3 linked regions of the Homo sapiens genome follow. The protein of the gene in region 2 interacts with the protein of the main gene of each other region in a pairwise test. Each region holds a gene or a part of one and is shown on either strand. Other genes may lie near its edges. The genes, in order: BTBD9, DCLK3 and ZNF292.

What was found.
Region 1: the proteins of DCLK3 (region 2) and BTBD9 interact in a two-hybrid assay, tested with the Homo sapiens proteins (one study listed by IntAct).
Region 3: the proteins of DCLK3 (region 2) and ZNF292 interact in a two-hybrid assay, tested with the Homo sapiens proteins (one study listed by IntAct).

Annotation. Positions count from the first base shown.
Region 1 is NC_000006.12:38,633,298-38,637,052, forward strand, and holds part of BTBD9 (BTB/POZ domain-containing protein 9), read right to left. Parts: intron 1-3,755.
Region 2 is NC_000003.12:36,715,837-36,719,591, forward strand, and holds part of DCLK3 (serine/threonine-protein kinase DCLK3), read right to left. Parts: intron 2,342-3,755; coding exon 2,174-2,341; intron 1-2,173.
Region 3 is NC_000006.12:87,158,518-87,162,272, reverse strand, and holds part of ZNF292 (zinc finger protein 292), read right to left. Parts: intron 1-3,755. UniProt on the Homo sapiens protein: May be involved in transcriptional regulation.

The sequences.
Region 1 (3,755 bases), on a different chromosome or scaffold from region 2:
AGCCCAGTCCCACTTCTCACTGGCCACAAGCTACAGACAAACAGTTCCCATTCTGGAACTCAGTTACCTTATTAGTAAAATGGAGATAATGTCAAATTGACAAGGTTGTCATTACAAGGATGAAACAGTATATAGAAAGGGCCTTGCATAATGTAGCCATTAGATAAATAGCACCTTGTTTTTAATTACTCTTTTGCTTATATGCATTATGCATATACTTCCCAAATCAAGAAAATAGGGACACAGACTGCCAGAATATTTTTGTGTCTCATATTCAGATGCAAAGGCAGCCCAGGAGGTTAATGTGGACTTATGACATGTTATAATTTCTGAAACATTACAATAGCTTATGAGTTGCTGTTAAAACTGAACACTTAGCTGCTTAAGAAGCCAGAGTACCTAGTCTGTAATCAATATTTATACAGTACTTATCGTATTCTTTTTATTACTCCAAATATGTTCTTTCTCCTCTATCAAATTACAAATTTGATTGCTAAAAAAAAAATATACATCTCTATACGCGTCATGGCCCCATCCCTATACTCGTCATGGCCCCTTGAATACATAAGGCTGAATGAATTTAACTTCAAGTCCTCAATGTCTCTTCCTTCAATATAATCTTAAGATTATAAAAGTCAGGCTCCTTCACCCTGACAATATGCATACATGTGTGCACATTCCTTTCCCCAAGTAAAACCAGAATTAGGTGCACAAGGCAATTATTGTTTTCTCTATGCCCAGCACTTCACACGATTTCTGGCACACTATAAATGCTTAATGAATGTTAGCTGGGAGATAAATGAGAGAGAACAAGCACCTAGGCAGAATAGTGAGTAGCTAAGCTGTCAGTCATGAAGCTCCAATTTAACTCCAATTTCACTCCCTTTACAAATGTGTTTATAATTTTGCACAGCTACTGTTTTATTTCCTTATATAGTGGAACTCCCTTATAACTTCCTCTCACTAGGACTAACATGTGTGCTATATGCCAAAAGTCTTCAGTATATGAAACATGTAAAACCCAAAGAATATTGGCAAGCAAAGAATATGTCCTTAGATTCAGATTCTCTACATCCATGTTTCTGTGATTATACCTCTTCCTGTTTCTTTCCTGTGGGTTTTGCTCATTTCACCCATCTTATCTGTAAACTTCCCAGGAACAGGGAATATATTATTTGCTTCCCTTTTAAGACTCAATGTGCCTAATACAGGACACAGACTGGAATCCTGGCACATATTATTAAAAATTATTTTGCAAACTGGATTGTTCCTTTTTTTTAAAAAAAAAGGGGGGGGAGAGGGCATCTAACACAAAGTCAAATGCACATAGCTACACACCAGATATATGAAAGAAATTTTCTGTAGTTATTTTGTGTGTGTGTAAAATTAGAAATCATATCCTCCCCATGACTCATCAGAGATAAAAGAGGATAAATGAAATCTGTGTGTGAGGTACATGCCATCATGCACCAGGACAGTATTAAGCAGCTTCAAAGGTTATTGCTATGTATCAGGCATTATAATAGATTCTGGAGAAAACAAAAATAAGAATGAGATAAGCTCTACGAAATTGGAAATCAGACTGGTAGACCTAGAGAGTCTGGAGGCTGTTAAAATTCTTATTCTTCTCTAAACTATCTCCTGGTTCTCCATACACTTCAACCACTTTGTTAGTGCTGGTTCCTTTTCTTTCATCTATCCTCTAACAGCACCATCAGCATCACCTGGGAACTTGTTCAAAAATGCAATTTTTCAAGCCCCAGTCCACACCTACTTAATCAGAAACTATGGGGGTGGGACCCAGAAATCTGTGCTTTACCAAAGCCTCCAGCTATTTCTTTTTTTTTTTCTTTTTTGAGATGGAGTCTCGCTCTGTCACCTAGGCCGGAGTGCAGTGGCCTAATCTCGGCTCACTGCAATGTCCACCTCCTGGGTTCAAGCGATTCTCTTGCCTTAACCTCCTGAGTAGCTGGGATTACAGGTGTGCACCACCCCACCCAGCTAATTTTTATATTTTTAGTAGAGATAGGGTTTCACCATGTTGGCCAGGCTAGTCTCAAACTCCTGACCTCAAGTGATCCACCCACCTCAGCCTCCCAAAGTGCTGGAGTTACAGGCATGAGCCACCACACCTGGCCACCTCCAGGTCTACCCAATGCATTTTCAAATTTTAGAACTACTATGGTTTGCATGTGTCCTCCATGTGTTAGAGGAGACATGATTCCCCAATGCAACAGCAGTGAGTGGTGGGATCTTTAGTGATTAGGCCATGAAGACTCTTTTCTCATGAATGAATTAATGCCAGTAGAGTGGGAATAGGTTGACATGATCAGTTCAGCCCCCTTCCCTCTCTCTCTCACCCATGTGATGCCTTCTGCCATGTTATGACACAGCAAGAAGGCCCTCACCAGATACTGGCACATTGATCTGGGACTTCCTAGCCTCCAGAACTATCAGGAAATAAATTTCTGTTCTTTATAAATTAACCAGACTGTTCTTTATAAATTAAACTTAGATCAGTTCTTGTCTTAGTTTGTTTTGTGCTGCCATTATGAAACATAAAATATGAAATAGCAGCACAAAACAAAGACAAGAACTGATCCAAGTTTAAATACTGATTTAAACGTCCAAAAGTTCCATTCACCATCTTTTCCAGTTCTCACTCTCCATTTTTCTGGCATTGGGGCCTCTCCTACTATCTCTACATCTATAACTACTACTAACAATAACAGCAACAGCTGCCATTTATTATATTAAGCATCTATAAGACAGGCATTGTGTTAATCACTGTGCACATAGTACCTTTGTGTTAATCACTGTGCACATGTATAATCTCCACAATTCTTTAATTCAGATAAGAAGCCTAGGCTTAGAGAAGTTAAATAACTTGCCAAAGGTCAGCCAACCAATAAACAGCATAACAGAGATTTGACCTGCCATCTTCCTAACTCCAAAGTCCACTAAGTTAACTACTATACTAACATGCCTCCTAGAAGGTTGCTACTCCCACAGCCTCAGCGGACATCTATATTACAATTGTCCCTAACCATCTCATAAACTCTGAAGTAGCATTTCCAGTTACTTAGTGGATCTCTCTTTTTAAACTCCCCACAGAAACCTCAGAATTAACACTGCCATTATTTCTTCTCTCCACTTCAAACCTGTTCCTCTTCCTGTGATTTCTAACTTAATGTCATCATAAGCAAACAGTTGCTCAAACTAGACATATTATCTTTGACTTCTCACTCTCCCTTACCTCTAGCTGGTCATAAATGTAGAGATTTTAACATCTAAAAATGTCTCCAAAATCTATCCATTCCCATTGTCCAACATTTCTCACCTACACTCTAGTCTCCCTGCCTCTCTACTCTAATGCAATCTGCACACGAACTGTCAACTTTCTGATTATTCTACCTTCTATGGCTCTCCACTGCCAATGGATGGGAGGAGTCTAGACTTTTTAGGATGAAGTGGAAGACCCCCTCATAATTTGGCTCCAAAAACAGCTTCCTGCCTCATCACTTCCCCCATGCAATAAGAAGTGATTAGGCCCTCATGAATGGATGAATGCCATTATAGCAGGAATGGGTTCATTATCTCAGGAATGGGTTCTTGAGATGAGTTCAGCCCTCTCCCCTCTCTTGCCCACAAGAAACAACTCAAGATATTTCCAAAAGCGCTATTTAATTTTAATATTCAGCAACTTTGCTTATGCTGGCCCCTGGAATGCTCTCTTCCACCTCTACATGTGGCGA
Region 2 (3,755 bases):
GGACAGCACAGCTCGAGAGGACGTTCCTTCATTTCTCTGGAATCGCAGGGCCAGACCCACTCTTAACATCCCTGGCACTCAGGGCAAAGGAACAAATGGAGAACACATGCTATACATCTACATACTTTAAGGTTTCAAATCGAAACTAACACATTGTTAAATAAAATATGTTCAATCTTTCCAAGTCAATACATATGCCTTCACATTGACAAAACTGAAAACCGTGTAAAGAAATCTAAAAAGTAAATAGTGCAAATTCAAAAATAATTTTATTTTCTGCCCAAGACCATGACTGATTTTAGAGAAATGAGGGCCCAACTGGTGGGCCCAGCAGCAGGCAGAAAGCAGAAGAGATTTCCCCCTGGCTTGCTGGCTCTCCCAGCCTGGCTCATTGAGACTGCTCTTCCAATCACTCAAGATATGCACAAGAAGAAAACATCCACTTTTTGTTGTTGTTATTTTTTGCCTTTATTGAAGGCTGTCTCTTACTCAAGACCAGCTGCTTACCCACCAATCACCGCTCCCCTCCCCCGATGTCCAGCCACCTCCTGAGCACAGAAGGCCCAGATTCCTCCTACACCACCCAATTCAAGCTGGGAAAATTCTGCCCCAAAAAGCCCCAGCCCCACCACTGCCACATCACTCCCTCAGGGTCCTCAAATGACTCAGAGGCTGGAAGGCCAGATTTAAGTTGAGAATCCTCAGACTCTTGTGTACAAGTGTGGACAACCAGACACCCCAGGCAACATGTCCAAGCTCTGTCTAACCCCTCCAGATGGCCACTCCTTGGCCACTTTATGGCATAGTGGGAAGAGGCTGGAAAGAGGTCTCACAAACCTTGGATGTGGGCTTGGGCCATTTGGACAGGGAATTCAGGGGCCCTAAGGAAGTGATCTAGAAGAGGGGACCTGGGCTCTGGGGGCACATCCCCTAGGCCCCATACTCTCCTCACTCTGTAGAGAAGGGTGTGACTACAGCAGGGCCCAGGACAGGGGCCACCCATGCCCAAATCTAAGGAGTGCTGCATAGAACTTTCTAAAATGATTTTTAGTCCCTCAATTCCCAGTTGCCACTGCCTTGTCAGCTCAAGATCCTCATCTACTGTGACAAGCCACCCTCTCCCTACCTTATTTAAAGGGGGGAAAATGAAGATTTTCCCTTCCCTCATCCTCCAATCCCAGTGAGGAAATAGAGGCTAGGGATGGAGGCAGTTCAATAACTAAAATTCAATAGCATGTTTAGGGAAAATTGAAAAACAAAATGTTATCACTCCTATTCTACTTTATTTTTATTTTTATTTTGAACCAGGGTCTCTGTCACCCAGGCTGGAGTGTGGTGGCACAATCATAGCTCACTGCAGCCTCAAACTCCTGGGCTTAAGTGGTCCTCCTGCCTCAGCCTCCAGAGCAACTGGGACCACCCCTGGCTAATTTGTTTCATTTTTTGTAGAGAAGGGGTATCGCCAGTTGCCCAGGCTGGTCTCAAACTCCTGGTCTCAAGCAATCCTCCCACCTGGGCCTCCCAAAGTGCTAGGATTATAGGTATGAGCCACCACACCCAGCCTCCTATTCTACTTTTTAAGCTAAAGACTCAAAATCCCCAATTATCTAGTTCCCAGTTTTACAAGGACAGTGAGTAGTACAGACAAATCAGTAGAGACAAGGGGAAGGATTTCATTTGGAATCAAATGGAACAGAGGGCCAAAAGCAGGGAGGACCATGCATGCTCCAAGTCACTAAAAAATAACTGAGATCTTCATTGCAGAGCCCCTGTGCTTCAAGTGTGCTGCTATAGGACCCTTGATTATGCATGTGTAAAATAAGCATTTTCAGTCTGTTCCATTCACAAACACTTCTGCATATAAGATGGCCTTTCTCTTTCCAAAGGGGAGTTACAATGTTTCTGATATTTTTCTGTTCTGAGGTTCTTGAATTGCCTTAAGGAAAAGTACTTGGTGACTGTAACTGGTGGTTGGGCTTTTTCACTAAATCTGAAAGCAAGCCATGTTTTCAGAGTGCTACACAAACCTACATGAAGCTACTGAGGAAGTAAAGGCTGAGACATGACATGTTGACAGTCCAACTCTGCACCAGGCACAGTGGTGGGTCCTCTACACATCTGACCTGAAAAACCCATCCGCTCCTCTGCTGTGTGAGGAAGCCCCAAATCTCACCATCAGAGATATTGTCCCAGTAAGGGGGGAGGAACTCAAAGTGGCCCAGCTGGATGATGTTAAAGAGCTCGTCCTGGTCCCTCTCAGGGCTGCGGAATGGGGGAAAGCCACACAGCAGGATATAGAGGATCACGCCAGCAGCCCACATGTCCACCTCCAGTCCATAACCTGCGCAGACAGAGGCAGAGACACAAGCAAACCTGAGACCAGGCAGGGTCAAAGGTGATGAAATAAATGATGGAGTATTGTGGTTCTAAATAGATCTAAGTCATAGAGGATCCCAGCTCTCAGCAACCAAGAGCCACTTCCAAACACAGCTCCCTGCTAACTCCTATACATAAGGACTCTACACCATCATTACTCAAAGTGTGGTCCATGGATCACTGCCACTTTGCAATGCCTTATTACTGGTCTGTAATAGAATGAGCAGAGAAATTGAAAGCAAGTGTTTGGAAACTCTTATAGCAATTTAACAAGACTGTGACGCTCAGTTGCATGATTGAAGGGCACATCTTGTTGAACAGCACATACATCAGTTCAGGCGTTGTCAAACACATGTAGTGAGTCACATGTGGCATGAGATGTGTTCTAGTCACATGCAGCAGGACCGTGAGTCCACACTGTACTGGAAACTTTAAAACTTGACCCTTCACTGGAGGTAGTTAGAGAAGCCCCAGTCTACACTAGCAATCTCTGCTTCCTATATATCCATTGTCTTCTCTCTCACTTAAAAAATATCATTTACTGGCTTTTTAAATGATTTTTAAAAGACTGATGTTTACTAGCTGTATCCCCATGTGTGCACACACTGGTATACAACACACACACACACGCGCACACACCTATATAGAGACATGTATACTTTTCTAAATAAAATGTTTATTTACTTTTCTAAATAAAAATAGGATCACATTGCACCTATACTCTATTTTATTTACTGAATATTATACAATGACATTTCCAACATAAGAATTTCCTATGAAAAATACCAAAAATATTTTTTACAAAAATGATTTCTAATAACTATTAGTATCCCCTTTACATAATAAATCCCTATGTTGTAATTTAAGTTTTTACTAATTTTTTTACAGCTGTAAGGAATTTTCTGATGAGCATTTATTAAATATTTGTGCACATGTCTGATTATATTCCTAAAATAACCTTCCAGCAATGAAATAGACAAAGCAATATACAGTAAAGGTTTTTGATACATATTACACATTGTCCTCCCAAAACTTATCACAGCAATATAGACATTTTCAAACACTTTCTAACTAACTTTTTACAGTTAGAAAAAGAAAACACTTGACCACTGTAATTTAGAAGTTAGATATTCATAATTAAGCCCCAGAGTAAGTTTGTCAAAATACAAATCTGCAGGAAAATATTAAAAGAATAAGTCACTAATGACCTCTTTTGGTCTTTTCTCAGTTCTCAACCATCTCACTGTTGAGAGGGATTGATTTTCCTGGACCTCATCAATCCTAGAAATGTCCCTTGGCCTCTGTGACAATGCACTTTTCAGATCCTCTCTGGGCTGCTCAGCCTTTTCTCTGCTGATCCCTCCTTCCTTCTCTCATCC
Region 3 (3,755 bases), on a different chromosome or scaffold from region 2:
CATTCTGTAGCTCTAACAGTTTTAATTTGGTTTTTATTTCTTATACCAATCAGGCACCAATAATGGCTAACAAAGGTAATGAAGACTAGCTCAAATAGTACCTCCTCAGGAAAGCCTTCCCTGATACCCCAGCCTGAAGTGCTTACTACCTACTTTGAACTCTTTAAGTTGCTATACATAAAATTAACTTACTCTCCTAAATATCCACTGATAATGAACTGATTAATTAGACCCAGCCATAGACTAGAATTACTATATACTATAATAGGGAAAGCCAAAAACTTACATGAGCAGCTATGGAATGAGCTAGAAGATGCTTTTGGGGGGAGGGAAAGCAAGATACAGTGTAGTTATCTTTATTTTCTTAAAAAGAGCAAACTAGTTCTGGAAACCATTAGGGGATTTGTCTTTGTGGAAATGAGACTGGAACTCTAGAATGGGAAAAAGATCAAGTTTTCATTGTATGCCCTTTCTCAGGGTGAATTTTAAAAAACCATTTCAATTAGTACATTTTCAATTTAAAACAAAACAAAACAAACAACAAAAAAGCAAAACCAGGCTGGGTGCAGTGGCTCACGCCTATAGTCCCAGCACTTTGGGAGACCAAGGTGGGAGGACTGCTTGAGCACAGGAGTTTGAGACCAACCTGGGCAATGTAGGGAGATCTTGTCTCCACAAAAAATTTTAAAGTTAGGCATGTTGATGTGCACCTGTGGTCCCAGCTACTCAGGCTGAGGCAAGAGGATCGCTTAAGCCCAGTTGGTCAAGGATGCAGTGAGCCGTGACTGTGTCACTGCACTCCCACCTGGGTGACAGAGTGGAGACCCTGTCTCAAAAAAATAAAAATAAAGCAAAACAATTTGTTAGTTAATACACTGCCTTTTGACATCTTTTCAGCTGTCATTTTGAAGTGATATTTAAATATTATCTTACTAATTTATATCCCACTAGTTGCCCGTATCTTTTATCTCCTATAACATCTAAACCTAGGTCCTTGCATATAAATGCTTTCTTAAAAGTACAGAATTTATTATATCAAAATGTCAAATCTTTTCTTTAATCAGGATAATTATGCTGAATTTGCTACCCTCTTTAACCTAGCAAAAGTTGTTTTACTAACTGTTTATGCAATTGCTTGTAATTTCTGCTAAGAAAGTAGAAAGTTTCTTGACCTCTCATGGTCAGTATAAATTATACTTAAATATTGTTGAATATCATTTACCTGGACCTGTTCCAAATAAAGTATATTTCTGGAGCTTAACTATCTCAATATGAAAAGAGTAGAAGGACTAAAAAAAAAAATCTTCTAGATATACTATTTTTCTTTCTGTTCAATGTTTCTGAAAAGGGTACTTAGAGGAATTACGCTTTCATTTGTTGGGACGGTCCTGATCACTTCAGAAAACTTAGCATTGAAGCTCATGGGCACTAAATGCCAGTACCACATCCCTAGTCATAGCAACATCCAAAAACCTGATCCCACATATTTCTAAGTGCCATCAAAGAGAGAACTGGAGGTAGGGAAAGTACTATGCCCAGTTGAGAAGCCCTGCTTATATGAACTAAGAAAATTATATATATATATATACACACACACATCATATATATGTATATATACACACACACACACCGTATACATGTATGTATACACACACACATCGTATATATGTATATATACACACAAACATATTTTTTTATTAGAGTCTCCTGTATCTTATATCCTCTGTAACATCTAAACCTAGGTCCTTGCATATATATACACACACACACACACACACACATATATATACAAACACATGTACGTATGTATACACATACACACACGACTGTAATTCAACCCTTCAAAACAACTGTCAGCCACCAGATCACTACTGATCAATGGTCAATAACAGTTACAATCAACCAGTCGGCCAGTCCAGTATATAGTGCTGTCAGCAAATATCATACTCCAACAAATCAACTATTACAATGGCCAATTTTTCCAACGAACTATTATTTTAAAATCTCTTTAGAACAACTCCTCTGTTGGAATGTTTCTTTTAAAACTCCCAAATAACCTCCCTCTTTACTGTACTCACCTCAGTGATAAAATATATAAATCATAGTTTACTACGATTATCTGTCTACCTTCCTCCAGAGACTATAAACTCTTTGAAGCCAGGGACCATGATCATCCTTGCCTAGCCTGTATACAGTAGATGTTCAATAGAAATGTTGAATGAGTGACTACTGGCCCAGTCTAATACAATTAACTAGTCTAAAAGGTTCCAATTATAACCAATTTTTGTATAATAAATACAGTAATAATCCTAAAACAAGTAAATGCAAGAAATTACTTCTGGTTATTCTATATACTTATTCTAAGTCAATTTTAAGAAAATGAGTTGGTTATATTGCCCATATTAAAGCTAACTTTGAAAAGATACAAGGAAATTTAAGAGCTGGGCATGGTGGTGTATGCCTGAGGTCTCAGCTACTTAGAAGGCTGAGACAGGGCCGGGCGTGGTGGCTCACGCCTGTAATCCCAGCACTTTGGGAGGCCAAGAGGGGCGGAACCAGCCTGACCAACAAGGAGAAACCCTGTCTCTAGTAAAAATACAAAATTAGCCGGGCATGGTGGCACATGCCTGTAATCCCAGCTACTCAGGAGGCTGAGGCAGGAGAATTGCTTGAACCCAAGAGGCGGAGGTTGTGGTGAGCCCAGATTGCGCCATTGCACACCAGCCTGGGTGACAGAGTTAAACTACATCTTTTTTAAAAAAAAAAAAAAAAAAAAAGAAAGAAAAGAAAGCTGAGACAGGAGGATCACTTGAGCCTAAGAGTTTGAGGTTGTAGTGTGCTATGATCATACCTGGGCAATGTAGCAAGACCCCATCTCTCAAAAATAAAATAAAATATATAAAAAAATTTAAAATTTATGACGGGCGCTCTACTATGCCCATCCTCTACTTACTCTTCCCTCCTCCCACTTAAGCTTTAAGCAAATTCTCATTTAAATAAGCAAAGGGGGGGCAGGTGGCTTATTTCCAGAATGAGCAAAACAACACTGTTAATAAGAAAAACATTTAATGCCTTTCGTTTCTATTCTGCTACTCAGAATTCAAAAAATCTATTAATCTTCTACCTCACTCAAAAATAAAAATCTATAAACTACGGATCATAAGCAACTCCTGTTTCTGTGGGTTTCACCACATTCTCCAGAAACTGAACTTTTGCTCATAAAAATTACATAGAATGTAAACTAATTCATTTTTTAAAGTAAATGCAAAACTAAGGGTTACACAAGCACTGAGCATCAACACTGACAGAATATTAATTCTGAAGCCCATTAACTTTGACAAACGTTTATTCATCTTTGCCTTCTTGAAGCGTGTGACTATCCCAGTTTTACAGGAAAAGCTTAAACAGAAAAAGTTAAATAATAATCTCAAGGTTAGAAACTAAGACATAATTTCTAGCTCCTAGTATCCCTGGTACTATATTTAGATTGCGCCAATAAATTCTTTAATTGTTAACCATTGCTTCACTCAACTTCGTATCAAAATGCTAGGTGATAATTGCTAAGATACAATTTTATTTTTATTTTTTATTTTTTTGAGACAGGATCTTTCTCTGTCACCCGGGCTGGAGTGTGCACAGTGCACCATCTCTGCTCACTGCAACCTCTGCCTCCCGGGTTCAAATGATCCTCCCACCTCAGCCTCGTAAGTAGCTGGGACTACAGGCACTCGCCACAGCGCCTGGCTAATTTTTTT